Regions from separate parts of the Homo sapiens genome. Here all the other regions are linked to region 2. The links come from fine-mapping of genetic effects on gene expression. A gene starts in region 2. Each other region holds a variant in brackets. All regions are shown on one strand. Distances are from middle to middle. Region 1 overlaps HMCES (5-hydroxymethylcytosine binding, ES cell specific). Region 2 holds the start of GATA2 (GATA binding protein 2). Region 3 has its middle 26 kb from the start of LINC01565.

Evidence for each region. PIP is the estimated chance that this variant, and not a neighbour inherited with it, causes the effect.
Region 1: its variant is the best candidate, but not a certain one, in a credible set for the expression of GATA2 in lung (TOPMed, PIP 0.56).
Region 3: its variant is the best candidate, but not a certain one, in a credible set for the expression of GATA2 in whole blood (INTERVAL, PIP 0.56).

Annotation. Positions count from the first base shown.
Region 1 is chr3:129,300,874-129,311,393 of GRCh38, reverse strand. It overlaps HMCES (5-hydroxymethylcytosine binding, ES cell specific), which reads right to left. Exons shown (of 7, transcript NM_020187.3): 6 at 9,252-9,444; 7 at 5,208-6,805. The coding sequence ends at 6,569. Among named protein-coding and RNA genes, the nearest start is that of H1-10-AS1, 10 kb to the left of the region's middle. RefSeq lists enhancers at 1,072-1,131, 5,252-5,836 and a cis regulatory region at 5,272-5,772. The variant T/C (reference allele first, on the strand shown) is at 4,592.
Region 2 is chr3:128,487,689-128,496,724 of GRCh38, reverse strand. GATA2 (GATA binding protein 2) reads left to right here and starts at 3,524. Exons shown (of 6, transcript NM_032638.5): 1 at 3,524-3,826. GATA2-AS1 (GATA2 antisense RNA 1) reads right to left here and starts at 7,522. Exons shown (of 3, transcript NR_125398.1): 1 at 7,055-7,522; 2 at 6,656-6,946. RefSeq lists silencers at 3,725-3,814, 8,699-8,898, enhancers at 5,586-6,395, 6,396-7,207, 7,208-8,018, 8,986-9,036 and a cis regulatory region at 7,273-9,036.
Region 3 is chr3:128,596,391-128,606,910 of GRCh38, reverse strand. No RefSeq gene overlaps it. Among named protein-coding and RNA genes, the nearest start is that of LINC01565, 26 kb to the right of the region's middle. RefSeq lists an enhancer at 3,604-4,103. The variant A/C (reference allele first, on the strand shown) is at 5,409.

The sequences.
Region 1 (10,520 bases), 810 kb before region 2:
CCCTATCTGTCGCCAGGGCTACTCTGCTTGCGATGTTGCCTCCTCCCTGTGAGCCTCAACATCTCACCTCTGCCTTCTGGGTCCCCCAATCTGCCTTCTCCCTGGCCCCAGGACAGCTCTGCAGACACTGCAAAGGCCCCATCCCAGGGTGTGTAGCCTTAGTGACTGGTAGAAAGGGATCTCCACTCAGTCAATGTCCCTAGACCAACCTGGTCTAAAGCTGTCTGTCTGCCAGGGCAGGGCTTGGAGCTGAGCACAGGGACTGTTGGGAAGGGTCTGAGCTCTTAGCACAAGGGGTACTGCTATCTCACTGTCCCAGTCATCAGATCTTGGGTGATGTGGCCCAGGGCATATTAGCTCTTCCAGCAGCTCCACCAGTTATGAGGAGGCAAAGAAGTCCTGGCTCTCCCCACAGCAACTGCTGTTAGGGCTACTCACACTTGCAAGCTGGGGGCGGTGATACTTGCAGAGGTATGGGAGAACAAAACATCTCATATGCCAAGGGGTTAGTCCACAGTCATTCATTCAACACCTACTGGATTGGGCCCCTTCTCTTGGACTGTGCCAAGCTAGGGGTGAATGGGAGCAGAGGCAGCGATGGGACTCAGTCACTTGCAGGAGAAGGACAGATAAACCAGAAAGTTCCTGGTAGGGACATTCCAGACTGGAAGCCCCACAGTAGCACAGGCTGCTGGGTTTGGGGAATGGTGAAAGGTGTAGTGGTAAAAGCAGTGGGGGCAATGTGACAGGGCATGAGGCCGGAGAAGTCAGCAGGGCTTCAGGTTCCCATGTCAACTCAATGGAGAAGGAAAACCAGGGAACTGGCTTGCACAATTGTAGGGGCTGATTAAGCAGTTTCTGTAAGGCTGTATCTCCAAGACTGACGGAGCTTGAAGTCCACAGGCAGGTGGTCAGGAGGGGAACACCATGAGCACATGAGCATACTGAAACCCCACTAGCACAGGGAGGACCCGTGACAACAGACTGAAACCTGTGTCTATTCTTTTTGTCTCTGACCTCACTGATGAAGGTAGAAGCTGGAACCCTTAGCCACAGAGCTAGACGTGCACACACCTGCCCCAGGAGTCAGAAAAAACTGAAGGAGAGTCCGGGAAAAGCACAGCAATTGCAGGTCCAGGTGCTGCTTCATGCCAATCAGGTGAGTCAGCAGATCAGCAGTCCAAATGGTTGCTTCCTTCCAAATCTGATGAGAATCTGCCTCCTGGCCCACCCTGATGGAAAATATACTAGTCAGGGAGTTCTGGAAAATATGGTTCAGCCAGGCCAAGTTGGCATGTTACAAAGCCCTCCCAATTCCACAGTTAAAAATGGGTGTGGGGGGTGGTGAGGAGGGCTTCCAGACCAGGTAGAGCATTCTAGCCAACTGGAAGACACAGACTCCACCTGAAGAGGGGCAGTGACTACCCAGCTCTTACTGATTGTTTTCAGAGCTTCCCAGTTTTCCAAATAATGTTAGAAGAAGCACCTCCTGAAAGTTTCCAAGTCCCTCTCTGGAGGCTGGGAGTGGTCTGGCCATGCAGGGAGGAATGGGGTAGGGTACCTCAGTGCAGCAGTGGTCCTACATGGGGCCTGGTTGTCGGAGGCACCTCCTCAAAATTTTTGAAAGTGGAAACTAAACTATTTTCTGAAATTTCCCATTATTTTAAAATATGGACTTAAAAAACACCCCATACCCATTAGAATGGCTACTATGAAAAAACAGGGCTGGGCATTGTGACTTACACCTATAATCCCAGCACTTTGGGAGGCCAAGGTGGGAGGATCACTAGAGCCCAGGAGTTCAAGACCAGCCTAGGTAATATAACGAGACTCCCATCTCTACAAAAAATACAAAAATTAGCTGGGCATGGTGGTGTGTGCCTTTAATCCCAGCTACTCAGGAGGCTGAGGTGGGAGAATCGCTTGAGCCCAGGAGATGGAGACTGCAGTGAGCCAAGATCGAGCCACTGCACTCCAGCCTGGGCAACAGAGCCAGACCCTGTCTCAAAAAACAAAAAACAAGCAAACAAACAAACAAAAAAAAACACAGAACATAGAAAGTGTTGGCAAGGATGTGGGGAAACTGGAACACTTTTGCACTGTTGGAAGGAATGTAAAATGGTCCAACCGCTATGGAAAACAGCATGGCAGTTTCTCAAAAAATTAAATATAATTACTATGCAATCCAGCAATTCCACTCATGGGTAAATGCCCCAAAGACTGGAAAGCAGTGATGAGAAGAGCACATCCATGTTCATAGTAGCACTATTCACAATAGCCAAGAGGTGGAAGCAGCCCAAGGGTCCATTGACAGATAAGTAGATTTTTAAATATGTGATCTACCCATACAATGGAATATTATTTGGCCTTAAAAAGGAAGGAAATTCTGACCCATGCTACAACATGGATGAATCTTGAGAACATTATGCTGAGTGAAAATAGCCAGTGACAAAAAGACAAACACTGCATGATTCCACTTAAATGAGGTATCTAGAGTAGTCAAATTCAGAGATAGAAAGTAGAATGGTGGTTATCAAGGGCTGAGGGGAGGGAAATATGGGGAGTTGTTTAACTTTCAGTTTTGCAAGATGAAAAAGGTTCAGAGATTGGTTGCACAACAATGTGAATACAATTAACAGTATTGAATGTATATTTTAAAATGTTTGGCCAGGCACAGTGGCTCACGCCTGTAATCCCAGTACTTTGGGAGGCCGAGGCGGGCAGATCACCTGAGCTCAGGAGTTTGAGACCAGCCTGGCCAACATGGGGCCAACAAACCCCATCTCTACTAAAAATACAAAAATTATCTGAGCATAGTGGTGGGCACCTGTAGCCCCAGCTACTCGGGAGGCTGAGGCAGAAGAATCACTTGAACTCGGGAGGTGGAGGTTGCAGTGAGCTGAGATCTTGCCACTGCACTCCAGCCTTGGGGGCAGAGCAAGACCTCTGTCTCAAAAAAAAAAAAAAAAAAAAAAAAAAAAAAAGGCTAAGATGGCAGATTTTATGTCACATGCATTTTACCAGAATTAAAAAATAAATATATATTGTATGGGCCAAACAAAATCACTGTGTGAGCTAAATGTGGCCTGAAGTCCCCCAGCTTTGAGATTTCACAACTGGATCTTCTATGAGGACACTTCTGGCCACTTCACAAGACAAGAAGCCCCAAATGATGATGTCCTGAAGGGGACTCAACCAAAGGTAGCCATACACTAGTGAAAGCCAGAGACCTATCTGCCAGTGCTGAGTGTCTACACCTGGGTAACAACCTCTCCATAGAGGGTTGTCATTAGGACCCCAGAGCCTTGCCCAGTGCACCTTATAAATATGCCCTCCCAGAGGCTCCTTTTCTTGCTCGCCTCTTCTTGGCTCTCCCAACCCCTATCCTTCTTCTGGCTGCCTTGGTTAGGGACTGTGAAAGACTCTGCCTTTTACAACTTTCTGTGGTAGGACAGGGGTTTGGATGGTGCGGTGGTTCACACCTTTAATCCCAGCACTTTGGGAAGCCAAGGTGGGAGGATTGCTTGAGCCCAGGAGTCTGAGATCAGCCTGGACAACATAGTGAGACTCCCATCTCTACAAAAAATATGAAAATTAGCCGGGTGTGGTGGCATGCGTCTGTAGTCCCAGCTACTTGGGAGGCTGAGATGGGAGAATCACTTGAGCCCAGGAGGCAGAGGTTGCAGTGAGCCAAGATCGTGCCACTGCACTCCAACCTGGGTGACAGAGCAAGACCTTGTTTCGGAAAAAAAAAAAAGTTCTGTATGTACTGAGGACCCTCTCAGGCAGACAGTACTCAGAGGAGCCTGAGCCAAAGCTCCTATCCCCAGGGAATGAGGTTCAACCCTTCCCATCACTTGTTCCTCACTCTGGTTGAGAAGAAAGAGGCCCAGGTAAGAATGGGGAGCTCCTACAGGCCCAGGTAGGAATCTAGGAGTCTGAGACCTCCCTTACTGCCTCTGGTTCCCCCCACGACACCCACCCTCCAGACTCTTCTTGGCTACAAGCAAGATCTCATCCAACTTCCCCAAGCTGATACACTACTCCCAAGCCAGGAGTCCCGTGGACTTGTCCTTAACTTACCTATGTCAAGCCATATGCGCTTGCCTGGGTCTGTTTCCACCTCTATACAAAGCAGGTTTGGCTTTAGGCATACAAGCCTTGCATGAGACAATGGATCAAGATGGACTTGCAGACAGGACTGAGGGGCAGGCACCTGTATCCATCAGGACCAGAAATCCCAGGGACCCTCTGCCTCCTCTAAGGCTACAGTGCAGGGAAGCATACCCTTAAGACTTAGAGCCAAGCCTGGTCACTGCTAGAGGGTGAAAGGGAGGGAGGTGGGAAGGACTGCTATCTGGGAGCCAAGCAGAGGGGCCAGATGGCCACATCCTAGGCCTGCCCCCACCTGCGCCAGAGATTGGTAGAGGGCCTGGCTCCACCTGGCCACACCTAGACAGGCAGGTGGGAGCTACCCTGTTTGGTCCAGATTTGACTAAGAACAAAAGACGGGAAGATGTTCCATTGCTCTAGTAAGCAGGATTAAATGTTGGCAAGGTGGGAAAATGAAGATTCTTATGCCCCTGAAATA[T/C]GTGAAAATTTGGAGAGCAATTTGGCAATACCTAGTAAAGCTGATGACTTAGAGAAAAAGAAGTTGCAGAATGCCCAAGATGATACCATTTATGTAAACCTGAAACTCATAAAATGATACTGTATGCTCTCAGACATAAGGATTTGCTTTTTTTTTTTTTTTTTTCTGAGACAGAGTCTCACTCAGCTGCCCAGGCTGGAGTGCAGTGGCGTGATCTTGGCTCACTACAACCACCGTCTCCCGGGTTCAAGCGATTCTCTTATCTCAGTCTCCCAAGTAGCTGGAATTACAGGCACCCAACGTCATGCCCGGCTAATTTTTGTATTTTAGTAGAGACAGGGTTTCACCATGTTGGCCAGGCTGGTCCTGAACTCCTGGCCTCAGGTGATCCACCTGCCTTGGCCTCCCAAAGTGCTAGGATTACAGGAGTGAGCCACCTCGCCCGGCCAGGATTTGCTTCTAACATCACGTTTATATGAAAGTATAAAAACTTGAATGAAAAGGAAACAAGCCCCTGCAGGCATTATATTCTTTCATGTTAAAATGAAAAGACCTCACCAAACTAATTTGCAACCATGAGAAACAGTGGGGAGATGATAATGAAAAACAAAGGGAATTTCATTTTTGTCATTTATTAACCTGGAAGCAAATATGACAAAACAGTCATACTAGTAAGTCATCTGAATTTTTTAAATCTCTTAATAAAACAACCAAATCCCACGCAAATCAGTCCACAAGGGAGGCCCCCGCCTCCACAGTGCAGGGTGACTGAGTGTACAACTACGGGCCAACCCCCGCCTCTCAACCGGAAGGGAGGGCACTCAAAAGAGGAATTTAGAGAAAAGGCGGAGAGGGCGGACCTCGGGAAAGGGTCTGGGCGGGAGCCCCACCTGGCTCCCCACCCCTCCCGAAACCAGGGGAAAAGCCTGTGGCGTGGCGCTGCTGTCTCCCATTAGCAGTTACAGGGCCGAGGCTTCCCGCTGATTGGTGGAAATTCCGATCTTCTGATCCCTGATTTGCATAGAGACTGGGGCCTGCACCCCCGCCCCCCACCAGCAGCAATCGGCCAACGCCAACGGTGCTGCGCCAGGAGCGTTCTGGGCTCGGCGCCGCCCAGTCCTCCTGGTCATCTCGGAAGCTGTTTTCTTCCAGCTGCTTGGGACAGCTTTTGTGAATGCCTCCCTTAGGGATGTTCGAAAGAGGAGTGGCCCGACACTGCTAGAAACTGGTCCTTTCCTTCCCACCTGTGGTAAGGATAGTTTCTGCTACGGCAAGCACTCAAACTCAGGCTGGTTTGAAGCTAAAGGATTCAGACGACTTCCAAGTATCAAGAATGAAAGAAAAAGAAACATAATAAGGAGCCCACCACCAAGACTTGTAGTTATTTCCTCAGAAAGCCCCCATGCCCCATTTGTGACAAAATCCATTCCTGAAGACTGATTCTAGAAGAAACCAAGTAAGATCTAGAACTTTCCCCACCAGCATCACTTTCCAAAATGTAGGCAGAAGTTTACCAAATACAATTTATTCAGGAAAAAAATAAATTTTAAGAACTTATTTTTATTTTATTTTAGAACTTAAAAATAAATTTTTAAGAACTAAAAAAGTGAAAGAGCCCAGTGGCTGAGCAGAAAACAGCTTACTACAAGGAGTACCAGATCAGGGCAGAGACTTCCCAGCTGGGTAAGGCATGCTTTGAGGGAAGACTCCACCAGCCCTGCCAGGAAAGGGCAGCAGGCGCAGTGCCCCTATGGGGCCCACATGGCTGGTAACAGCAGCAGGACACCTCTTCCAAAGCTGTCCACCAGCCCCACTAGGGGCTCCTACTCATGGCAAAAAAGACTACATGAGCCCACAACTGTCAACTAACACAGTGCCACCTCCTCCCAAAGCAAACACATATACATACAATGTTAAGAACCTATTATCAGAACAGCAGTGCAGCAGACCCTGGCCTTGGTCTCTGAAAGTCCTGTGTCACTGGCTGTAAGGACGCTTGGCCACAGGTTCCTCCTCCTTCTCCCGCTTCAGCCATTGCTCTAGGAGTCCTGCAGTGCCTCTCTTGGTGGGGAGTGGACTCTTCTGCAGGAACTGACTGGACCACTGGGGAACATCTGACTCTTCCTTTTGAGGTGTTTTTGAGTCTTCCTTTTTGGGTGACTTTGTGGCCAACCACTGCAACATCCTCTGGCTACTGCCACTTGCCCTGAGCTCCTACAAGAAAGAGGAAAAAGCTCAAACCATACAGCTCAAGCTTTTGGGAAAAGGCCAAGTCCAAGGGAAGAAACAGGGGAAGAGGCATTAGGTACTTACCCAGGCTTGGAAAATGTTACTAAGGGCCAGCTGGGGCCCACCAGTCAAGAGTGGAAAGAGAGGAGTGTGCTCTAAGGGGCAGGAAAGTAGATCTTAGAGAAGGTTTCACAGAGGATTGTGTGGGACCAGCCAGAGAAGAGAGCTGAAAGGCATTCCAAATGTGCAGAGAATGAAGCATTCTCAGGGAAAAGAATGTAATTCAGCATGACCCAGGGGGAGTGTTGGAAAACGAGACTGGAGAGATACAGAAGAATTTCTAACAGCCACTGTGATAAGGCTAAATTGTTTCCTCTTTGTGCAGACAATCTGTACAACCTCTTCTTGACTGTCACTACTCCCTTCTGCTTCCTTTACATCACACCCCAATCCTGAACTGAAAGGTTCTGAATTAGCACAATGCCACCTCTCCAGAATGTGACATCTTTTGGAGTAAACACCATGGCAGGGCTAGGTACAGTGGTGCATGCCTGTAATCCCAGCACTTTGGGAGGCTGAGGTGGGAAGATCGCTTGAGCCCAGGAGTTTGAGACCAGCCTAGGAAACATAGGAAGACCCCATCTCTATAAAAAATTTAAAAAAATGAGCCAGGCATGGTGGTGTACGCTTGTAGTCCCAGCTACCTGGGAGGCTGAGGTGGGAGGATCATTTGAGCCCAGGAGTTCGAGGCTGCAGTGAACTATGATCATGCCACTGCAGTCTAACCTGGGCAACAGAGCATGACCCTGTCTCTAAAAAAGAAAAAGGAAAAAAAAAAAGACCATGGCAGAAATGGGCAGCGTCTAGTCCAAAATGAATACAGGTTGAGCATCCTAACCCTGAAAATCCAAGATCCAAAATGCTCCAAAATCCTAAACTTTTTAAGTGCTTACATGACTTTGAAAGGAAATGCTTGTTGGTACATTTCAGATTTAGGATATTCGGCTAGGAAGTATATAATGCAAATATTCCAAAATTTGAAAAAATTCAAAATCTAAAACACTTCTGTTCCCAAGCATTTTGGATAGGGATATTCAACCTGTATATAGAATTAGTTTTAGAGTTATCTAATTTTTAAAAAGTGCCACGGTTGCAGGAGTTTATCAGAATCAAAACAAAAGAAAAAAAGATGACACTGTGGGTATGGAAAAAACTTTAAGAAAAATAGAGAGGGGGACAGCTGTTCTTACAATCATCCTTAACACGGCATTCTAAAATGTCTATTCTTGGAACATTCCAAGTATGTCCTATTTTAAGTCCCTCCATGCCACCTAAAAACAATCACTACTCCTAAATCCTTACCCCCAAATGTCAGTGGGGGCCAGCTTTTTGCTCTGGAACTTCTCTCCCCACTGCAGGCCTTCTGTTTGTTTGCCTTCCCTTCCTAAAATACACCCTCTGGATCCTTGCTGATTCTAAGAAGTTAAGGTTCATGGTAGGAATGCTCTCAAATCCTCCTGAAGGAGACTAAGGACTGGAGCTCCTGCAACTTGTAGTTCGGAAAGCAAAGATACAGAAAAGAGACACCAAAAATCATGGTTGGGGACGGAGAAACAATATGGTCAAGGGCTCCTTTGTCTTTTTCACCATCACTGTCTAGATTAGGAGTCCTCAAATGTGGTTTATCAGACTCATCAAAGAAGCTTTTTTTTTTTTCCTTTTTGTGGAGAACGGGGTCTCACTATATTGCCCAGGCAGGTCTGGAACTCCTCAGGTAAAGCTACCCTCCCACCTCTGCCTTCTAAGTGCTGGCATTACAGGCATGAGCCACTGCACCCAGCTGAAGCTTCTTTTTTTTGAAACGCAGTCTCGCCCTGTCACCAAGCTGGAGTGCAGTGGCCCAATCTAGGCTCACTGCAACCTCCACCTCCCAGGTTCAAGTGATTCTCCTGCCTCAGCCTCCCAAGTAGCTGGGATCACTACTTGGGACGGGCCACCACACCCAGCTAATTTTTGTATTTTTAGTAGAGACGGGGTTTCACCATATTGGCCAGGATGGTCTCGATCTGTTGACCTCGTGATCCACTTGCCTCGGCCTCCCAAAGTGCTGGGATTACAGGCGTGAGCCACTGCGCCCAGCCTGAAGCTTCTTAATTATACAAAAGTCCAAGCCTAGCTCTAAATGTTGATTCAGGATGTCTAGATAGGGTCTAGCATTTACATTTTGAAAGAGTTCTTCTCCTGGGGACTCTGAGTCACAGCCAGGTTTGAGAATTGCTGCTCTACACTACCTTGCTGTGTACAAGGAGTATGAGAGCTTTTGATGGTCCAAATTAAAGGGCTGATCATAAAAGGCCACATCCTGAAAGAAAGAGAACACTGACAGAAGACAGAAAGCTCAAAAAGGACTGTACCAGTCACAGGCCCCTACCTTTTTGACCACCAAGTCGACAGGAGCCAGACACTCAGGAGTGTTGTTTCGCGAGTTGTTCACCACAGAAGAGACTGCATGGAAGGTGATGTTCTCTGTTGGGTGGATTAATTTCAGAGCTTCCTGAGTTGAGACTTCACCAAAGTCAAGCCATTTAGAAACTGCCTCCTCTCCATCTAATATGGCAGGCATCCTGGCCAGGGAAGTTAAGACAATGGTTGGGAGAGGTAGCATGAGAATAAGGAGAGAAGGGAGAGAGACTTGAGTCAGCTGATACCTCAAATATCACAAGGGGAGCTTGCCCTCCCTCTGCGCCTCACATGCTGATTGCTGCCATGTGTTCCCTGAGCACAGGGTGACAGGGCACCAGATTCAACACCTGGAGAGCCATGTTATAAAGTTTCATGGCAAAGACAGTGAAGAGTACTAACTGGTCTAGTGTACTCCAGTGTCCACTCTAGTAAATTGGTAAACTTTCTATGACACCCCAGCCTAGAATGAAGGGAAAATAGATCTTGAAAACTTGTCTATCAACAGCAATCTCAAGCCTCACCACCTCTGAAAGACTTACAGTAAGAAAATTGTGAACAAAAGGAAGCCATGCGTCAGAAAAGCAGAGAAGCTGTCAAACATGACTCCTGGTACCCAGAGGATGTAAGGAAAATATACTAGGTTTAGCTTCCAGTTTTATGTCCCAGGCCAATGCAGTGTGGCACACACTTTTTGGGTGGTACAGTTGATTCAGATACAGACAAATGTTCATTTGTCTCCTAAATATATACATAACATATAAAATAATGTTAAATACTGTAATGTATAAAATAATGGTACATTTTTAAATGAATGGTGATTTAGATTAAATGAAATATAATTTTTAAAGGTTAATTACTAAAAGAGAACTACATCACATGAAAGCATATTTTTTTTTTTTTCTTCTTTTTTTTTTTTTTTGAGACAGAGTCTTGCTGTGTTGCCCAGGCTGGAGTGCAGTGGCGTGATCTCCACTCACTGCAAGCTCCACCCCCCGGGTTCATGCCATTCTTCTGCCTCAGCCTCCTGAGTAGCTGGGACTACAGGCACCCACCACCATGCCCGGCTAATTTTTTTTTTTTGAGATGGAGTCTCACTGTGTTGCCCAGGCTGGAGTTCAATGGCATGATCTCGGCTCATTGCAAGCTCCACCTCCCGGGTTCACGCCATTCTCCTGCCTCAGCCTCCCAAGTAGCTGGGACTACAGGCAGCCGCCACCACGTCTGGCTAATTTTTTGT
Region 2 (9,036 bases):
GCGCTCTCTGAAAGGGCTCCGATAATCTGGAAGGCAGAGATAAGGAACACCATTTATTCCGCGGCACTTTGGAAACAATTCCCAGCCCTGTACAACCCCATTCTCGGGCAGCCTCCGGGAGCCGGGCAGATAACGACTGGCTATTCATTATCTTCGCCGGGAACAAAGATTAGCCGGCCGAGATGAAAAATTACCCCGGACAGCGGCGCAGCCCCGCGCGGAGCCCCCTGCCCGCCACCACCGCCCGCGCCTTGGTGTCCCGCCCTGCCCGCGGCCCGCAGCTCATGCCCAGCCCATCCTCGCCCGGCGCCCGGCCTCCCGCGCTTCCTTCGAGCTTGGCGGCTAAGCCCTGTCGGCCTTTCCATCTCAGTCTGTCCATCCCATCCTGCCCATCTTTCCTTTGCGTCCCCACTCTTCTCTCTGGGGCCCTTCTCACGTCCCTCTTCTCGCATTGGCTCTTTGCGCCTCTCTTTGAATCTCTCTATTTTTGTCTTATCTCTCTGTCCTCTCTTATCTCTCTCCTGTCTCTGTCCATGTCTCTGTGGTTATCACCTTCTTTGCTTTTATTCCCATCTTTCTGACCCTTTCTGCCACTTTTTAGTTGTTTATTTCTGTCTGTCTCCAAGTGTCCCCAAGCTCCAGGCCTGTCCCCACCAGTGCCTCTTCCTCATTGTTTTTTTAAAATCTGTCTTTGGGCCTCCCATCTCTTTCCCCACTCCTTGTCTCTCTGGATCTTTCTGTCACTGAATCTCCATTTCTCTTCATCCACCCCACCCTGAGGGCCCCACATCTCCAGGCCTCATACCTCCTGCCCTCTCAAGGCTGTGAACCTGGCCACAGACCAGAGACTGGAAGGCTCCAGCCAGCTCTGGCCTGGCCAGCCCAGCTCCGCCCAGTAGGCAGGAGGCAGGTGGGGTGGGGAGGTGCAAGGCCTGGAACCCCCTTTCCAAGGAAACAAGACAGAAGTAGAAAAGGCCCTGTAGGCACCCAGGCCCTGCTCCTGTGCTTCAGACAAGCTCGCCCATGCCCCTCCCCAGTGAGGCCCAGGGCCTTGGGATCGGGTGGTCCCAATGAGGACACCTCATTAGAGCAGTTATTCAGCATGGCGCTGGCGACAGCAGATAAGCCTTATCAGCTCATCTCCCCTCCCACAGACAGACAGAAAGTGCCCGAGCAAATGGTACCCTAGAGCTCCACTGGCGGCCTGCCCTGCTGGTTAAGGAAGGTCTGGATGGTGTGTGATCCTGCAGGATGCACACCCCGCGTGTCACCCAGGACACACTTTTCTACAGTCCACAGAACAGGGCACTGCTGGCCACAGAAACATGCATTTCAAAGATGTAGTCATATACACAGTTGCCCACAACCCAGATACGCAGACACAAACACCCACCGCAACACACATCAATTCATACATGGAGCTGTACGTAGACATGCAGACACACTCGGATACATCTCCTCCTCCCCACCATCAGTTCAAAGATACAATGATATACACTGATACCTATGCTGTTAAAGACAGATGGACATGCACATAGCCAAATGCATGTTCAAATACACAAACACAAACACACGCCCCAACAGCCATCAATTAATAAAGAGAATTATACATGGATATCCAGACACATGCAACACACCACACACACACACCTACACATACACCAGTTCAAGGACACATGCAGATACCCAGGTACAAACTATTAAAGACACACACAGGCTAGGCGCAGTAGCTCACGCCTATAATCCCAGGACTTTGGGAGGCCGAGGTGGGAGGATTGCTTTAGTCCAGGAGTTTGGGACCAGTCTGGGCAACATAGTGAGACTGTGTTTCCACAAAAATAAAAATAAAAATAATTAGCCAGGCACGGTGGCACATGCCTGTGGTCCCAGATACTCAGGAGGCTGAGGTGGGAGGATGGCTTGAGTCTGGGAGGTTGAGGCTGCAGTAAGCGCTGATTGAACCGCTGCACTTCAGTCTGGGTAACAGATCAAGACCCTGTCTCAAGAAACAAAACAAAACAAAACAACAACAACAACAAAAATACACACAGTAACACATGCCTAGATACATGCACATACACACGCAAACACACACTCCAAAACACACCCATTCATAGACATGCCACACACTGCTACAGACACATGGGCAAACACCTGGAAATCCCCACCCCTCATTACATGAGTCTCTGACATGATGACCCCACAGACACAGAGCCAAAGGGACGCACAACCATTTCCACAGACACACTCTCTTGTGCCAAATTCCAGGGTCATGAAATAGCCACACTGTGACCTACTGCCCAATACACAAACTCTCAGGAACCCACAAGAAGAAATGAACATACTCATACACCCAGTTTTGCAGACACTCCTGTGTGCTCCTAAGTGCACACAGACACACCTGGGCACACAGGACATAGACTCTGAGCCACATGCATAGAACACACACACAATGCAATAGTCACCACCAGATTTGGAGAAAGACCTATGGACAGCAGGGGTCACAAAGACCAGGGGACAGAAACACTCCTCTGGGGCACACCTGGGCACGGGAGCACAGATTTCCCAGTCCTTCCAAGCCCAAGCACTTTCCCTCTGGGCTCAAGGTCCCCAGGCCACTTTCACTCTCCCTGATCTGCTGGAATGGGAATCAGGGGTGGGGGTGGGGGGACGCTGACTGGTTGAATCCCTTAGTAAGAACTTTGGCAGCACAAGGACTGGACTGTCTTTGCCCACAAACCCAGGGGCCTTCTGGGGATGAGGACTCCCACACTCACTTTCTCCCCCCCTCCTGACTCCCACTTCTGTGAACAAGCCCTCTGCACACTTCCTTGCTTCCCCCATTGTGAGAGTCTGCCCCAAGGAGATGGGCCAGGGGGACACCAGACAGTGGACTTCTAAAGTGCTCAGGGGGTCCCCCAGCGTTAGGAACTGGAGGGGGGGTGGGACAGGGAGAGGGGCTGCGCCTGCACTTAGCTAAACAAGCCTGGCAGTGAGGGCGTCCTGAGTGTGAGCCCGAGTGCCGAGTTGCATCTGATTGTATGGCCATGTGTGTCGGTGTGACCCAGGCCGTCTGTCTGAGGATGTCCTCGCGGCCACAGCTGTGTGCACATGTGCAGGGATGTGTGCGTGTCCGTGTGAGCACTCCTGGAAGTGGGTTGAAGACAGAGGAGCGGGCGTCTGTGTACCATTATCAGTGAGTGCGTGTGCTCACAGCTCCTGAGGGTCCCCGGGGAGAGTCTCAGTAAAGACGTGTCCCAAGCTTTCTGAGCAAGCATCCCTGAGGTCAGGGGCGCGCGTGTGCGCTCCGGAGAGGGTGGGAGCGGCCTGGAGTGTGGATGCACAGGGTGTGCGCGCCCTGAGTGCCTAGCGGCCCTTGGCCGGCCAGGCGGCTGGACCTGGTAGGCCGGGTGCAGAGCCCCGGGTACCCTCCTGCCCCCTGCGGCGCTCCCGCCCCCGTCGCCACCCCCTGCCCCCCCGCAAAGTGATGTCGAAATAAAAAGCCGCGTTGCGGCCGGTGGGGGAGAGAGAGGCAGCGTGAGCGCCAGGAAGGTAGCGAGGCCAGCGTCGCCCCGGGACTCGCTGCTCAAGTCTGTCTATTGCCTGCCGCCACATCCATCCTAGCAGGGCCCCGTCGCCCACCAGGCGGACAAAAGCGGTCCGCTGAACACCATGCGGCCGCTCGGCGTGCCGCCCAGGCTCTGCTGGTGAGCGCCGCCACCCCGCGCCCAGGTCCCGCGAGCCCGCCTGCCGCGCACCTCGCCCTGCTCCCAGCTCTACTCCAGGCCCCGTCCGCCCGGGGGCGCCGCCCACCGCGCCTCGCTCGGTGAGTTTCTTCCACTTCCACCTTCCCTGGGCCCGGCCCTTCCCGCCCCCGGCCCGGCCCGCCTGGCACCCGAATCGCTTGGTCCGTTTGCCCTGTGGCCCCTACCTTTGGGGCTCGCCTTGGCCCTGCCAGAGACCGGAAACCCTGGTTATAGGGACTTTAACCAGAGGGAGTATTTGGTTACCTGGGCACAGCAGGCCCGCCTCGGGCCTCTTGTCTTCCCATTTCTCGGAGCCACAGGCCACGAGACCCTGGCATTCCCAGAGCCTCGCAAAGCACCCCCGCCTCCCGGCCCCCGAACTGGGGCCTTTGTCTCGGCCGCCCCCAATCCCCAGGCCACCGCGGCGGATGCGTCCGAGCCGGGCCGCCGAGCGGCGGCTGCACCTGCCGGCTGGTCCCGTGCGCCGGCTTTTCGCGGCTTAACCCAGCTCGCTCCTGCTTGCGCCCCCGCGCGCTGCGCCCCGCAGCCCTTTATCCTGTGTGACTGGGGTGCGTGTGGGGGAGAGCGCCGGGTCTGGAAGTCTCCCCCCGCCCCAAGCCGGAGTCGGAATCCGTTTAGTGGGATTTCAATAAGAATGGGGCCGCCGCGGGCTTGAAGATCTGCCGCCGGTAGGCGTAGACGGCGTTCTGGATCTGTCTGAAAACGGGGCATTTAAAATTATTCTGTGGCGGCCAGGCTTGAACTCCGCGTTGCTCCAACCACGAGGGGAAAGGCCCCGCGTTCAGGGACCCCGTGTGTGGCGAACGCTCCTTTACCGGAAAACAAGGAAGGAAATTCGTTGTTTTGGAAAAAGCCTCCTCTCCCGAGGTCGGGAACATCTGGTGGTGAGCTCCAGGTCTACGCAGGCACCCCGTGCTAGGATTCGTTTATGAGCAGGCAGGATTCGAGAACCAGGTAGGGCCCGTGCGGCAGCCGAGGCGTCTGGGGAGCGTTTCCCAGCCGGGCTGACAAATTGCAGACAAATTGTGCCTAACGAAACGGATTTACCAGTTGTCAGGCCGCCGGCCCCGGCCGCTCCAAATAAACCGTGGCTGTTCGTGGAGGAGGGAGAAGCACGGCCCGATTGTCTCCGGGTCTCAGCAGGGTTCCGCGGGGAGCCTGCCAGGCTTGAAGGTAGGGGTCAGAAGCGATATAGAATCTCGGAGGCGCCTGGGTCCAGGGTGCCGAGACACCTAGGACGTGGGGGCCACAGACTCTACGATTCCCAAAGACACAGAACAGTAATGAGGTGGGAGAGCCTGCACTGATGCCGAGGGAGGGAGCCTTCTGCTTTAAGGGGCTGGAATTGAACCTCAAGGAGCAGGAGGGGCCGTTATAGCAGTAGTCCCCCCCTTGGGAACCCCCCCGGAGGGATGGCTGCTGGCCTGAGATCTAATGCCCCGGCTTTAAGGGAACTTCTGAACCCATCTGCTAAGGCACCCCACTTCCTCCCCGTACCCCTCAAGGTTTATTGCCAGTGTGGGGCTGGGAGGCCGCTGGGTTGCGAATTAAATTTCTCTATGGAAGGTAGTCCCTTAGCAAATGGGTTTCCTTGACACCCCACCCCCAGCCCCACACCGCGGGCCAATTAGCTGCCCATAAGGAAAAGGCGAGAAGAATTAGGTTACAAAGGGAGGGCAAACTTATGGTCCCAAAGGGGCCGCCTCGGATGAGCTAACTTTAAACAAAGGGCTCAGAGGGGGGGGGGGGCTGGACGGCCGGGGAGACCTGGGCATCTCTGTGTCCCCACCTGGCACCCGCGGCTTAGTAGAGGCCTGAGAAGCACTCTAGAACCGGGCACCAGATCTGCTACCTCCCCAGCTCCCAGGCAGAAGCACCCAGGTCAAATGGTGGCGATCGCCGCTGTGAGTTCTCGGGCCAAAAGGGTCCTTCGAAAATTCTGCTTCCTGGCTGACCTTCTCCAGTCCTCAGAGAAATCTTGTTCCCAAGTAAGGAAAGTGACAGCTTCTTAATGTGATCAAAGGCAGCGCCAGCATTTCCAACTATACTCCCGAACGAACAAAGTACTGAAAAAGGGAACGCGTCCCTCTAAAGGTGTTTTGGGGACCCCAAAGTTCCAGCCCATAAATTGGAGTAAATCTGCTCTCACCAGGCCTGGAACAGCGCCTCAAGACCCCAGCAGATTCTGGGGGCTGCGTTGACCCTCCCCGGGAGTTTGTTTGGGGCCCAAGGTGGGAGGACCATGTCTTCGGCCTAATGGGGAGGGGCCCGGTTGGTGTCCCTCGGTCTGCCTGGCACACACAGACATTGTCGAGCGCGGGTCCCTCTTTATTGGCCAGCTGGGCGCCCTGCTACTTGGCGTCGCATTTCTCTCTCCCAGGCGGGTTCGTTTCCGCCAGAGAATGCAGCAGTCCCGCATCCTACGCAGGACCTGCAACCGAGGTGGAGGCTTCGGTCAAGCCGGCTCCTGCCTGCGTTGTCGAGGAAGGCAACCCCAAGGCCTGAAAGGACCTGGCAGAACTCCTGTTTCCTTTTTTTCCTCTACACCGGATTGCGGGCAAGGAGGCTGGTTCGGGTCTCCCGAGGCCCCTGCTCAAGCACTCCTTAACCGTCCTGCTAAGCCCCTCTGTGCGGCGATTTTCTGAGCTGCCGAGCGGGGTAATTAAATCCCCTCCCTCGCTCCGCTCTGCGTCAGGCAGGCGGCAGCACAGGGCTGACGTTTGGGCAGGGGACTCAGCCAGGCTGGCCACCTCCACTACCGCAGTGGCCGGGACCCTGCCGCGGAGGGGTTAGACGCCGAGCTCGCTGCGCTGAAACTGGGAATACACACGGAACGGGGAGGGGGAGGGTAATTTTTACCGCGCCGGTGGGAGAAAAAGGCGAATTACCTGCTTTCCCGAGGGACGCGCGTAGCCACTTCCCTGAGAGCCGCGGCACCGATCGCGGCCGGGCGGGAAGCTTCCGCTCGGTCCTGGCGTTCACAGCCCAGCGGCCAGCTGCTGGTCTGCCTCCCGCGCTGGGTCCCAGGGTTCGCGCTCGAGCGGGGCAGCTTTGCCGGACACGGGGGATTATCCCTGGGGACGCGGTGTCTTTCAGAGGGTCTTGCTAGTCTCCGGAGACGCCAAATAGGCTCGAGCTCCGCGGCGATCTCATTTTACGAGTTGATGAAGAATCGTAAGCTAAAGGATGGGAAAAGTTGAGAGACAGACGGACGGAGAGACAGTGGGCCCCGGCGGGACCGCACGCGTTGAGGGGAACGCCAACCGGGAGGCACGGAGACTGCTCACCTGCCCGGCCTGGCCGCGGAGGCCCGGCGCCAAGGGCCTCGCGCTCGGCCTCCCGCCCCCTGCGCGGCTTCCCGGGCTGGCGCCGGCCTCCGCTCCCGCAGAGTGGAGTTCCGAGCAGACCGGGCTCCGCGCGCTCCAGCGTGGAGGGGAGCGGGAGGCTTAGCAGGCGGCTCGGGCAGGCGGGTCCCCCAAGGGCACGAGACGCGCTGGTTCCCAGCCCAATGGAGCTCTGCGCCCCCCAGCCCCGCGCTTTACCTGCGCTGAGGCCTCGGACAGACAAACGGACGCCAGACGCCTAGGCAGGAGGAGGCCTCAGCCTGAGCCCGCGGCCCCTTGGCGCTGCCCTGAACTGGCCTGGGAGGGGGTGACGGGGGCGCGCCCGCGGAGCTGGGCCCAGCCGGGCGCCCCCGGAGCCGAGGGGACCGAGGGCTTTCCTCCCTCCTCGGATTATTAAAAAGTTCATTTCCTGGCGAATCGGGTGACGTCAGGGGCTCGGCGTCGCGGTGGCGGGGCCGCCCGGCCGGAGAAGCCGCCTCCAGTTACCCAATTACCGACTGTCAATCCCGCCGCCCCTCCCCCACTCTCCCGGGGGTGGCCGGGACCCCAGCCCTCCTCCTGCCCCCGACCCACCTGGGGGCCCTCTGGACATCTACCCCGGGAGCCTCGGGCCCAACAGGGAAGAGGGCTGGAGGACGCTGTTGAGTCCCCCCAGTACTCGGCACCTGTCTAGGTCCCCCAAAATGCCTTTGTCCTGGACCTCCCTCCTCGGCCCGGGGCTCCCTTCGAGCCTCCGTCTCCCCAGTCTGTACAATGGGAGGGAGGAAGACTTGTGCGCCCGGCCCACACGAACCATAGAGCCGATCTCCGGGCTAGAAGTGAGTGGGGAGCACTTCCAGGTGACTTAGAAGACGGAGACCTCAGACCACCGCCTCCCCCTCACCAGAGGCCACCTCGGGGACCCCCCCCGGAGGAAAAAAAATGCCACCTCTTGCCCGGGGGCGTCTCCCTCCAGCTGGCGCCGGCGCCAGTCCGGGTCTCCACGGCCTCGCCCCAGGCAATTGGGCCCGTTGGCCTGCGAAGGCCACGCCCGGGGAGGGGTGCCCCCTCCCCCTTTCTGGAGCCACCGGCCGGGCCACCTCCACTGGGTCAAGCACAGCCCTGAGCGGCCGCGTGTCCGAGGCCCAGGTGCCCTCTAGAGCCCTGTAGTTCCTGCCCCTCTCTGCCCCTCTCGGCTCCTGCTGTTCCGCCGCTGTCGTCCGAACCATCCCAACCCCCAGTCCACCCAGACAGCGCCCGAGCTAGGGGAGGGAACGGTCTGGGTAGGTAACTGCGCTCGGACTGACCACGTTCAGCGGTGAAGGAGCGTGGCGGGGTTAGGGTCTCGGGGAGAGGCCATCCAGAGGGTGTGCGGCCCGGGCTCCTGGGGAGGGGGCAGTTGGTGGTTAGTTACTGCTAGGGAGGCCCAGAGCATCGAGGGATCCCGGAGTGTTCGCAAGAGGGGCTGCAGGGGTCGGGCCTTGGGGTGAGGGTCCCTTAGTGGTGGGGCGCGTTGGCAGCAGGGGCCGCCAGGAGCGCGCAGGGAGGGGGCCCGCCGGCTGAGGGGGGCCGGCCCGCGGGTCAGTCCCGGAGTCCAGCGGTTCGGGAATTGCGGACGCAGCCAATGGGAGGCGGAGGCTGGGAGGCGCGCGGCGTTGATTGGCTGGCTTGGGCTTCTTAGGCGTGCGCGGCCCCCGCTTCATGTCTGTGCAGGAGTCGGCAGCTGGCGCCAGGGCGGCCGGAGGATGCCGAGGGGCCGGAGCCGGGAGGGCCCGAGGCCGAGGCGCACTCTACCCCCAGCTCCTACCCTGTAAGCCCCGCCAGCCTCCGGACGTGCTGTCCCTGGGCCCGTCGCCCTCGGGGCTCCCGCCGGAACTCCTTCACTCTCAGAGGCCGAGTCCCTCCCCTCCCCACGGCTGCGTGTGTAAGTTTGGGGTTTGAGAGCC
Region 3 (10,520 bases), 110 kb before region 2:
CTGCCTCGGCCTCCCAAAGTGCTGGGATTACAGGTGTGAGCCCCCGCGCCCCGCTGAAAAACTCCTATTCATTCTCTAAAACCCACCCCCAGGGTTACTCCTGGGAAAGCTTAAGTGCTACTTTCCTTCTCCCTCTCATAGACATGGTTACTGCCTTGCTGGGGTCTCTGTGCACTGGGGTTACAATGTTGTGATGGTATCACCACATCTGTTTATATCCAGATTCATTACAAAATGTTTCTGTGTTTTAAAAATTGTAAAAGTGGTATGGGCCTATAGTCCCAGCTACTTGGGAGGCTGAGGAGGGAGGATCGCTCTAGCTCAGGAGTCTGAGGCAAGCCTGGGTGACGTAGCAAGACCCTGTTTGTAACAACAAAGAGAGATTTTAAAAATTGTAAAAGGCCAGGCGTGGTGGCTCATGCCTGTAATCCGAGCACTTTGGGAAGCTGAGGTGGGCAGATCGCTCAAGCTCAGGAGTTCGAGGCCAGCCTGCCGAACATGATGAAACCCCATCTGTACTAAAAATGTAAAAATTAGCTGGGCACGGAGTCGAGTACTTGTAGTCTCAGCTACTCAGGGGACTGAAGTGGGAGGATTACTTGAGCCTAGGAGGTTGAGGTTGCAGTGAGCTGAGATCACACCACTGCACTCCAGCCTGAGTGACAGAGTGAGCCCTTATCTCAAAAAAAAAAAAAAAAAAATCCCAATTGTAAGAGTTAACACATGCTCATACTAAGGATCCAGACAGATCAGAAGGGTATACAGAGGCAAGCAGAATCTCCGGCTTCCTACCAGCTTCTCTTCCAGAGAAACACAGTGTTAGCAATTTCTTGTGAATTCCTCTGGAAAGTCTCCATTCATTTACAGGATGTCACACTATATTGCTTTAATTATCCTTCTCTGTCCACTGCTCCATACCTAGTTCCCTGAGGACTGGCTAGGATCTGACTTAGGTAGGTGCTGGAATCAGTCCTGGGCCGGGCTGGAAAAGATGATCAGAAAATTTTGCATGGGATAGTTTTATTCCCTCCTGACACCAACTGACCAGATAGCATGGGATCTGGTGAACCTCCTTGCTCCTAATTGGAGGCTGCCATCTCCTAGCTGGCAGATGTATTTTCTTTTCCTTATAGAATATTATTATCATTACTGAAAGATGAATTCATTTTCAACATTTAAAACCTGAGAGATATTACTTAAAAAATATAATTTTCCCATCTGGCACAGAGGTTCATGCCTATAATCCCAGACCTTTGGGAGGCCGAGGTGGGAGGATCGCTTGAGCCCAGGAGTTCAGCCTGGCCAACAGAGGGAGACCTCATCTCTACAAAAAATTTTAATAATTAGCCAGGCATGCGGTATATGCCTGTAGTTCCAGCTATTTGTGAGGCCAAGGTGCAATTGCTTGAGCCCAGGAGGTCGAGGTTACAGTGAGCTATGTTTGTACCACTGCACTCTAGCCTGGGCAACAGAGCAAAACCGCCTCTTAAAAAAAAAAAAAAGAACAGTAGAATTTTCCAGATCTCTTGAAAAGGTTCAGAGGGTTCAACTGAGCACTCAGGTCTGTGCAGCCTCACCTCACTCCTTGTCCCCGAACCCCGGGGCCCCTAAGCCTGTGTCCCATGTCCTTGGCAACCTAATGAGGAAGATGGACCTGCATGAAAATAGTCCATGACAAGTGACTGCAGCAGCTGAGTTTCCCAGCAGAGGTGGGAGAATGATTGAGACGGACCCCAGGCTGGGGACTCTGCAGAAGCGTGAACCCCAGTGCTGTCCTGTGGGACACATACTCCTCCCGGTCCATGGGGTTCACACTCTGGATCCTCACTGTTCTGTTCACTGCAGAGAGGAGCAGGGGTGGGAAGTGGGTGGGCCTGTTTCAGGGTGGCCCCTGCTCAGCTCCAGGCATAGGGCCACGAAGGAATGTGGGCTCAGAGTGGCCAGAGCTTCCAAAGCAAAGCTGGAAATACAGCCTGAAAGAATGGACTTAAAGAAAATAAAAACCTGGTAACCCATGCAGCAAGCTCCGTATGCCAGTGGCCCTCAGTTTATGTCTCTGATTTGCTGGTACCCTCATTGCTTTAGAGAAAAGTTTCCCCCACCTAAGAAATAGGAAGTTCCTAATGGCAGAACCCAGGACAGCCCTTTCAATGGCTGCATTTTGCTTTATAGAAAACCCACCAGGCTGCCCCTGAGCTTCTGGTTGTCCCATGAGGAGAGGGAACTTCACTGGCCTGAGCCTGTCGACCGTGTGTGGTCCTGAATATGATGACCCCAGAGCAACCCCCAGCCTCCTCCTGCAGTCCTGCTGTGCTCTGCCAAGTCCAGTCCTGCCTGGCTGCAGAAACACAGGGACACTCTGCAGCACTGAGAGAAGTGCTCGCCAAGGAGAAACACATGTCTTCCTCCAGGGAAGCCACCTTGGGGGCTGGCAGGGCCAGGGACTGGAGCGCAGGGTTCTGGGCCAGGAGGTTTGGAGTCAGCTCTGGCTTTGGGGAGCTTCCAGGCTGAGGAGGCTCAGCAGGCAGCAGCTCCCTCCCACCCTCCTGCACAGCCAGGACCTGCCTGGGCATCAGACTGGCCCATGATACAAGCCTGCCTTCACACCTTGGCCTCTTCCCCCTCCAGGTGTCCAGAGCCCGGCTGGCGCAGGTGGGGCAGCCAGGCTGAGGCCGCAGGGCAAGGCCGGGCTGAGCTGTCCTTTTGCCTCTCTCCGGGTGAGGCCTCCTCTGTCCTTCCTTTCCCAGTGCCCCCCCGCCCTGCTCCTCTGCGGGGGTACAGCATGGGGAGGTTGTTGACAATTTGTGCATTAATCTCTCTGCCGGGGGCCTCCTGGTCAGGTGGTGCTTATCAGGGCCCTGCTCCTGTCAGATGGGCCTTCCGGAGCCCGTGGGCGAGGGGGGGTGGCAGAAGCCCCTGCTGCAGGGCCTGGAGGCTGCCTCACCATCCCCAGGCCTTCACATCCCCTTGCGCCCCCGCGGGCAGCCTGCTTTACCACATCAGGATACAGAACATTGCATGAATTCCGGTCTCAATGGAATTATTTCAGAATTCTGGTCAACCGCAAGCTCAGGGTATTTCACAAACTATCTATCACTGCTGTGCGGTGGGCAGAGTCTGGGCAGGGGGCAAGTAACGGATGCAGGGAGGCCCCGTCCACTGCCTGTGGGGGTGGCATGTCCCCCCCAGTGGCACCCCTGCCTCTGCAGACAGATGGCGTGTCCCCTGCCCCCCATCAGCAGGGGAGCTCAGGCCTGGAGTGGGGGCTTAGGAGAGGCAGCGGGAGGCCAGGCCCTGGCTTTGAGGGTACCTTCGAGAGGGCACCCAGGTTTGGGGCCCACTCCTACCAGCGTGGGGCCTTGGCAGGTGCTTGGAGTCTCAGTTGTTCCAGCTGTAAAATGGGATCATGATGCCCAGCCCCCATTAAGCAAATGTTCAGAGATCGGCAAGATGCGTGCCCTTGCCGATTCTCTTAGCATTTCAGGATTACTACAGGGCAGCATCTATGAAGTGCCTGGCTGAAAGTGGGTGCTCCATGACTGGGAGCTGTACCGTAATGAGAGCAATACTATGAATCATTCTCCTGATAACACCTCCCCACCCCTCTATACTTGAGATCATGCATAGAACTTGGGGGAAGGAGAGACCCTACCTCCAGGGTGGCAGACATCTGCACACTACCCGTCCTCTACTGTGGCGAAGGTGGCAACATCTCCAAGGAGCTCCTTCCTTCAATCATGGACGGTGCCTCAGAATCCTCCTCATCACAGTGCTGGACATCATTACCGACCCCTCAGAGTAGGCGCCAGAGGAAGCCGCTTAATTATTCTGGCCCCAACTCGTGAGAGTGGTCTGAATTGGCAGGGCAAGGGGTCCCCCCTCTGCTTCCTAAACTTTCCTGGAAGCTCCAGGTCCTTTCTCCAGAACCTGGCCCCAGCCACCTTTCCCAGAGGCAGGGATTGGAGGGCCAATCTCGTCTCTCCCTCTGCAGGCCTCCTGCTGACCATGAGTGATTAGGCCCCGCACTGGGAGGAAGGAGATCCGGGCCCCCAGGCTGGCACAGGCTCCAGTTCCCACAAGGGTCTAGGACTCCAGGCCGTCTGTTTAGCAAGACGCTCTTAGGCAGCATGGCCAAAGTTGGGCTGGAGCACCCGGGGGCTCTGCTGGCCCAAGCCAAACTCAGACTGCCCAGCCAGTGGGGATGGGCTCCAGGGCCTGAATCTGGGATAACAGCGCTGTCCCTCTTGGGCAGAGGGTAGGGGAGGACAAGGCCCTCGTCTAAACATTTTTCAAGCCCACTTTGGGACCCCCAGCTGGCTGAGGGTATCAACAAGAGTTGGGGAGGGAACTTTTGAAATCAGGAGGCCTGAGAAACCCAGGACTCCTGTCCTTGTGGTAAGGCTATGAGGGATACAGAGCTTGCGGCAATTCCCCAAGGCCATTTAAATCATTCTCCACCCCGATGATGGCTTTTTCTTGTCCCTTTAATGAGATGCTCCCCCTGCCCCCACAGCCATTTTGCAAGCTTTCCTGGGGTCCTGCGCACCTGTGGGCTGAGATCCAAGGCTGTGTGAATTCTTCCATAGACAGGACCAGAGTGCACAGCCATTCAGCCTGTGGTACCTGGGCTTCACCTGTTATTTTGGAGATTGCGTATATTGGTTATGTTTTTCTGCCTCATTCTTTTCTTTATTTTTAAACTTTTGGCCGGGCAGGGGAGCTCACATCCACAGTCCCAGCACTTTGGGAGGCCGAGGTGTGGGCAGATTGCTTGAGCTCAGGAGTTTGAGACTGGCCTGGGCAGCATGGCGAAACCCCGTCTATACAAAAATCAACCAGGCATGATGGCTTGTGCCTGTAATCCCAGCTACTTGGGAGGCTGAGGCAGGAGAATCGCTTGAACCTGGGAGGCAGAGGTTGCGGTGAGTTGAGATCGCGCCATTGCATTCCAGCCTGGGTGACAAGAGTGAAACTCCGTCTCAAAAAAAAAAAAAAAATTTAGCTGGGCGTGGTGGCAGGTGCCTGTAGTTCCAGCTACTCAGGAGGCTGAGGCAGGAGAATCGCTTGAACCTGGGAGTTGGAAGTTGTAGTGAGCCGAGATCGCACCATTGCACTACAGCCTGGGTGACAAGAGTGAAACTTCGTCTCAAAAAAAAAAAAAAAAAAAGCACTTTGGGAGGCCGAGGTGGGCAGATCACGAGGTCAGGAGATTGAGACCATCTGGCTAACATGGTGAAACCCTGTCTCTACTAAAAATACAAAAAATTAGCTGGGCGTGGTGGTAGGCACCTGTAGTCCCAGCTACTTGGGAGGCTGAGGCAGGAGAATGGCATGAACCTAGGAGGCGGAGCTTGCAGTGAGCCGAGATCGCGCCACTGCACTCCAGCCTGGGCGACAGAGCGAGACTC[A/C]GTCTCAAAAAAACCAAAAAAACAAAAAAACAAAAAACGGGCTGGGTGCGGTGGCTCACGCCTGTAATCTCAGCACTTTGGGAGGCTGAGGTGGGTGGATCATCTGAGGTCAGAAGTTCGAGACCAGCCTGGCCAACATGGTGAAACCCCATCTCTACTAAAAATACAAAAATTAGCCGGGTGGCAGTGGTGCGCGTCTGTAATCCCAGCTACTGAGGAGGCTGAGGCGGGAGAATTGCTTGAGCCTGGGAGGCAGAGGTTGTGGTGAGCTGAGATCATGCCACTGGGCTCACTCCAGTCGGGGTGACAGAATGAGACCCTGTCTCAAAAAAAAAAAAAAGAAGGACATTACAGTTTTTAAATGTTGCCTCTAAATTTGCCTGTGAACCAACTATTGGACAGAATTGATGAATTATTTTGTCAGCGATGATAATGTGTTTTGACTATACAGAAAAACTTTATTTTTTCACTTGTGCCCTGGAGTATATAAAGGTGTATGAAGACATGATGGCTGTGTTCTACTGAGAAATATGTCAGCATAAAACATAAAATGAATTAAGGTTTTCTTCTGCATAAAATGAATTAAGTTTAACCTCAAATCGGAGCTTCACATCAGCGTTCCAGAGATAAAGGTCATAAAGTTGAGGACTGGCTGAGAAAGAGGGTGGCTCTAGGGCAGGCCTGGGGAAGCCGAGGAGGTAAGGGACTCAGGGAGGGAGGGGCCCAGGCCCTGGCAGGGGGCAGCAGGTAGAGGAGGGTGGCTGGGGCTTCAGAAGGACTTGTGAGCTGGGTGCTGTTCTAAGCACTTCTGCACAAACTAACTCATTTCATCCAAGCAATGGCCCGAAGCGGTGGGAACTGTTATTGTGCCCATTTCAAAAATAAGGAAACTGGCCTGGCATGGTGGCTCACACCTGTGATCCCAGCACTTTAGGAGGCTGAGGTGGTCAGATCATCTGAGGTCAGGAGTTCAAGACCAACCTGGCCAACATGGTGAAACCCCATCTCTACTAAGAATACAAAAAAAATTAGCTGAATGTGGTGGTGGGCACCTGTAATCCCAGCTATTTGGGAGGCTAAGGCAGGAGGATCGCTTGAACCCTGGAAGCAGAGGTTGCAGTGAGCTGAGATTGCACCACTGCACTCCAGCCTGGGTGATAGAGTGAGACTCTGTCTCAAAAAAAAAAAAAAAGGAAACTGAGCCAAAAAGAGGTTAGGACCTTGCCACAGACACTGGCAGGGGACTGCAGGAGTGGGGACAGGAGCCCAGGAAGCCTGTCTTTGCTGTTAACCACCAGCTTCACCTGGCGGGACCACAGGTGGCCTGGAAGTTTTAAAGTTGCATTTATTTATTTATTTATTTATTTAGATGGAGTTTTGCTCTCGTTGCCCAGACTGGAGTGCAGTGGCGCGATCTCGGCTCACTGCAACCTCTGCCTCAAAATGATTCTCCTGCCTCAGCCTCCCTAGTAGCTGGGATTACAGGCGCCCACTACCGTGCCCACCTAATTTTTTTTTTTTTTTTTGTATTTTTAGTAGAGATGCGGTTTCACTATGTTGGCCAGGCTGGTCTCCAACTCCTGACCTCAGGTGATCCACCCACCTTGGCCTCCCAAAGTGCTGGGATTACAGGCGTGAACCATCACACCTGGCTTGCATTTATTTATTATTTTATTTTCTGAGTTAGAATCTCGCTCTGTTGCCCAAGCTGGAGTGCAGTGGCATGATAACAGCTCACTGCAGCCTCAACCTCCTGGGCTCAAGTAATCCTCCCATCTCAGCCCCCACCTCTCTGCTCCAGTAGCTGGGACTACAGGTGTGTGCCACCACACCCAGCTAAGTTTTTTTTAGAGATGGGGGTCTCACTATGTTGCCCAGGCTGGTCTTGAACTCCTGGACTCAAGTGATCCTCCTGCCTTGACTTCCCAAAATGTTGGGATTACAGGCGTGAGTCACTGCTCCCGGCCTGTATCTATTTATTCTGAGAAGTGATATAACATTGCAGAAAGTTTTAAAAATAACAAAACCAAAATGAACAAACAAAACATTTCCCCACAAAACCGCATTCCCACCATGATCATTTGGGTGTGTCCTTGCCCAGTGGACATTTTCATGAACATAACTTTTTCTTTTTTCTTCCCCTCCCTTTATCTGTTTTTTTTTTTTAATGACTTTCTAAGACTAGATTTCCAGAAATAAATGAACAGGGCAAGGGGGATAGTTTATAAAATATATTTTTAATAGTTTCTGGCAGCGATTATGTGAGGCCCAAACTGAAAGTAGGGGACTCTCATTTGTGGAGGTTCACAGATCAGAAGATGCATCTCAGATCACTTTCGGGAAGCTTCCGGGCAGTGCCGTTTGTCGGTGTCATCATCGTCCTTATCGCTGACAGCCATCTTCGCTGCATTATCTGCAGCCCTTTCGGGAAGTGCCAGGGGCTTGGTAGAGAGGACCCAGCCCCAGGCTCGGCCTGCCTTGGGGCAGATGCACGCCACAAGCATGGAGCCCACGGAAGAGCACCCTCAAACCCAGGCAGCCCTGTGTGCACGGCCTGGGGAGCAGGGCTGAGGGCCCTGAGACCTGAGATCGCAGACGCCAAGCCTCCTGGGGCCCCTGCTGTGTTGGGGGGGTGGACTGCGGAGGTGCCATTCTTAAATACCTGGCTGAACATTACCCCCCTGGGGAGGAGCAGTGCGCAGCCGTTACCACATTGAGAGGGAGCTTTGGCCCAGCGGTGCTGCACATAGTGAACAGGACAGGCGTCTGCAGATGGACTGCACGTGAACATTCTGCATGTCCACAGAATAAGACTTGAGGCCCTTCAATTTATTTTCTATTTTCCAATTTTTGATGGAGACATGGGTACCAAGGACTATGCCTCCACCACAAGCAGACCAACAGCATAAGGGCCCTTAAAAATGAAAACAGTAGGGTTGGGTGTGGTGGCTCACACCTGTAATCCTAGTACTTTGGGAGGCCTGAGATCAGAAGTTCGAGGCCAGCCTGGGCAACATGGTGAAACTCCATCTCTTCTAAAGTACAAAAAATTAGCTGGGCGTGGTGGCACGTGCCTGTGATCCCAGCTACTTGGGAGGCTGAGGCAGAAGAATCGCTTGAACCCGGGAGGCGGAGGTTAAAGTGAGCTGAGATCGCACCGCTGCATTCCAGCCTGGGTGAAAGAGCAAGACTCTGCCTCCAGAAAAGAAAGAAAACAGTAGTTCGGCTGCAGGTGGCGGGGACTGGGGCAAACTGATGCTCACATGTTTCACGCAAAGAGGTAGCTGCTGCTCAGCACTAGCTGACTGGGGATCTGTGAGAGTATGGGCCTAGGGCTGGCAGATCTACTTTTTTCCTAGAGAAATGTGAAATTTGGATTTTAAAAAGTGCAATCCTTTGATATTTATATGTTGACTCAGATGTGTTTGAATCACCATGTAGGCCTGACAAAGCTCGCTGGAGGGCTGCACCAGGCGTGGAGAAGCAGCTGGGACAGCAACATCTGTCACCGGTTGGTATGGCAAGGGCTGGGCACTCACAGGAGCCTGAGAAACACCAGTGTCCACCCTGCCCATCTTGGTTGTGGGGGTTGGAAGAAGCAGCAGACCCCTGCCCTCACCCATGAGTCTCAAGCATGGCCCTTGTGTTTTGGAGCAGGGGACCTAATGAACTGCTGGCTTTCTAGAATGTCTGCCCAGGGCCAAGGCCACCACCCCCTGCTGGGCATCCGGCCCCAGTGCCCAGGGCATGGAGGGGGCTGAGAGGACAGCACCAGCAGGGTGATGTTGTCTTCTCTCTCCAGGGGTTAGGCCCTGCAGCCAGGCAGACAGGCTCTAGCCTTAGCTCTGCACTCAATCCTGTGTGAGCTGAGGCTTCTGGTCCCGGAGGCCCTGCTTCTTCATCTCTAAAATTGGGTGCACGATGCCAGCCTCTTAATATTGCTCGAGGATGAGAGTAGCTTAGTGCAGAGGGCACTTAGCCTGGTGGCAGGCACGCAGTGGGTCTCCCTAAACACTACTCTCCCCCTTGCCACTCCTCAGTCCCAACTCGGTGAGCAGAGATCTCCCTGGCCAACCTCCTGGCTCAATGACCTTTGGCAGATGACTTACCCTCTGTGTGCCTCAGCTTTTCCATCTTTGGAGTGGGGGGACTCATAGCAACTACCTTGTCAGGAGTAATGGGACAATAGACCTAAGACCCTGCAAGCAGGACCGCTGCCTCTGCTCCTCAGTGCTTCCTCTGATTTCTGGTCTCAGTGAAGCCATTTGTATGTAGGGATTAGGTGTTAGACTTCAGCTTTCCTTTTCCTTCCTTCCTTCCTTCCTTCCTTCCTTCCTTCCTTCCTTCCTTCTTTCCTTCCTTCCTTCCTTCTCTCCTTCCTTCCTTCCTTCTCTCCTTCCTTCCTTCCTTCCTTCCTTCCTTCCTTCCTTCCTTCCTTCCTTCCTTCCTTCCTTCCTTCCTTTCTTTCTTTCTTTCTTTCTTTCTTTCTTTCTTTCTTTCTTTCTTTCTTTCTTTCTTTCTTTCTTTCTTTCCTCTTTCTCTCTCTCTCTGTCTCTCTCTCTTTCTCTTGACGGAGTTTCACTCTGTCACCCAGGCTAGAGTGCAGTGGCGTGATCTTGGCTCACCGCAACCTCTGCCTGCTGGACTCAAGCTATTCTCCTGCCTCAGCCTCCTGAGTAGCTGGGACTACAGGCACCCACCACCATGGCTGGCTAATTTTTGTATTTTTAGTAGAGATGGGGTTTCACCTTGTTGGCCAGGCTGGTCTTGAACTCCCAATCTCAGATGATCTGCCCACCTAGGATTCCAGACATGAGCTACTGTGCCTGGCATTTTTTTTTTTTTTTAGACAAGGTCTCACTCTGTCACCCAGGCTGGAGTGCAGTGGCACAATCTTGGCTCGCTGCAACCTCCACCTCCCAGGCTTAAGCAATCCTCCCACCTCAGCATCCCAAGTAGCTAGGACCACAGGTACACACCACCACACTGGCTAATTTTTGTATTTTTTGTAGAGACAGGGTTTTGCTATGCTGGCCAGGCTGTTCTCGAACTCCTGGGCTCAAGGTATCTGCCCACCTTGGCCTCCCAAAGTGTTGGGATTACAGGCATGAG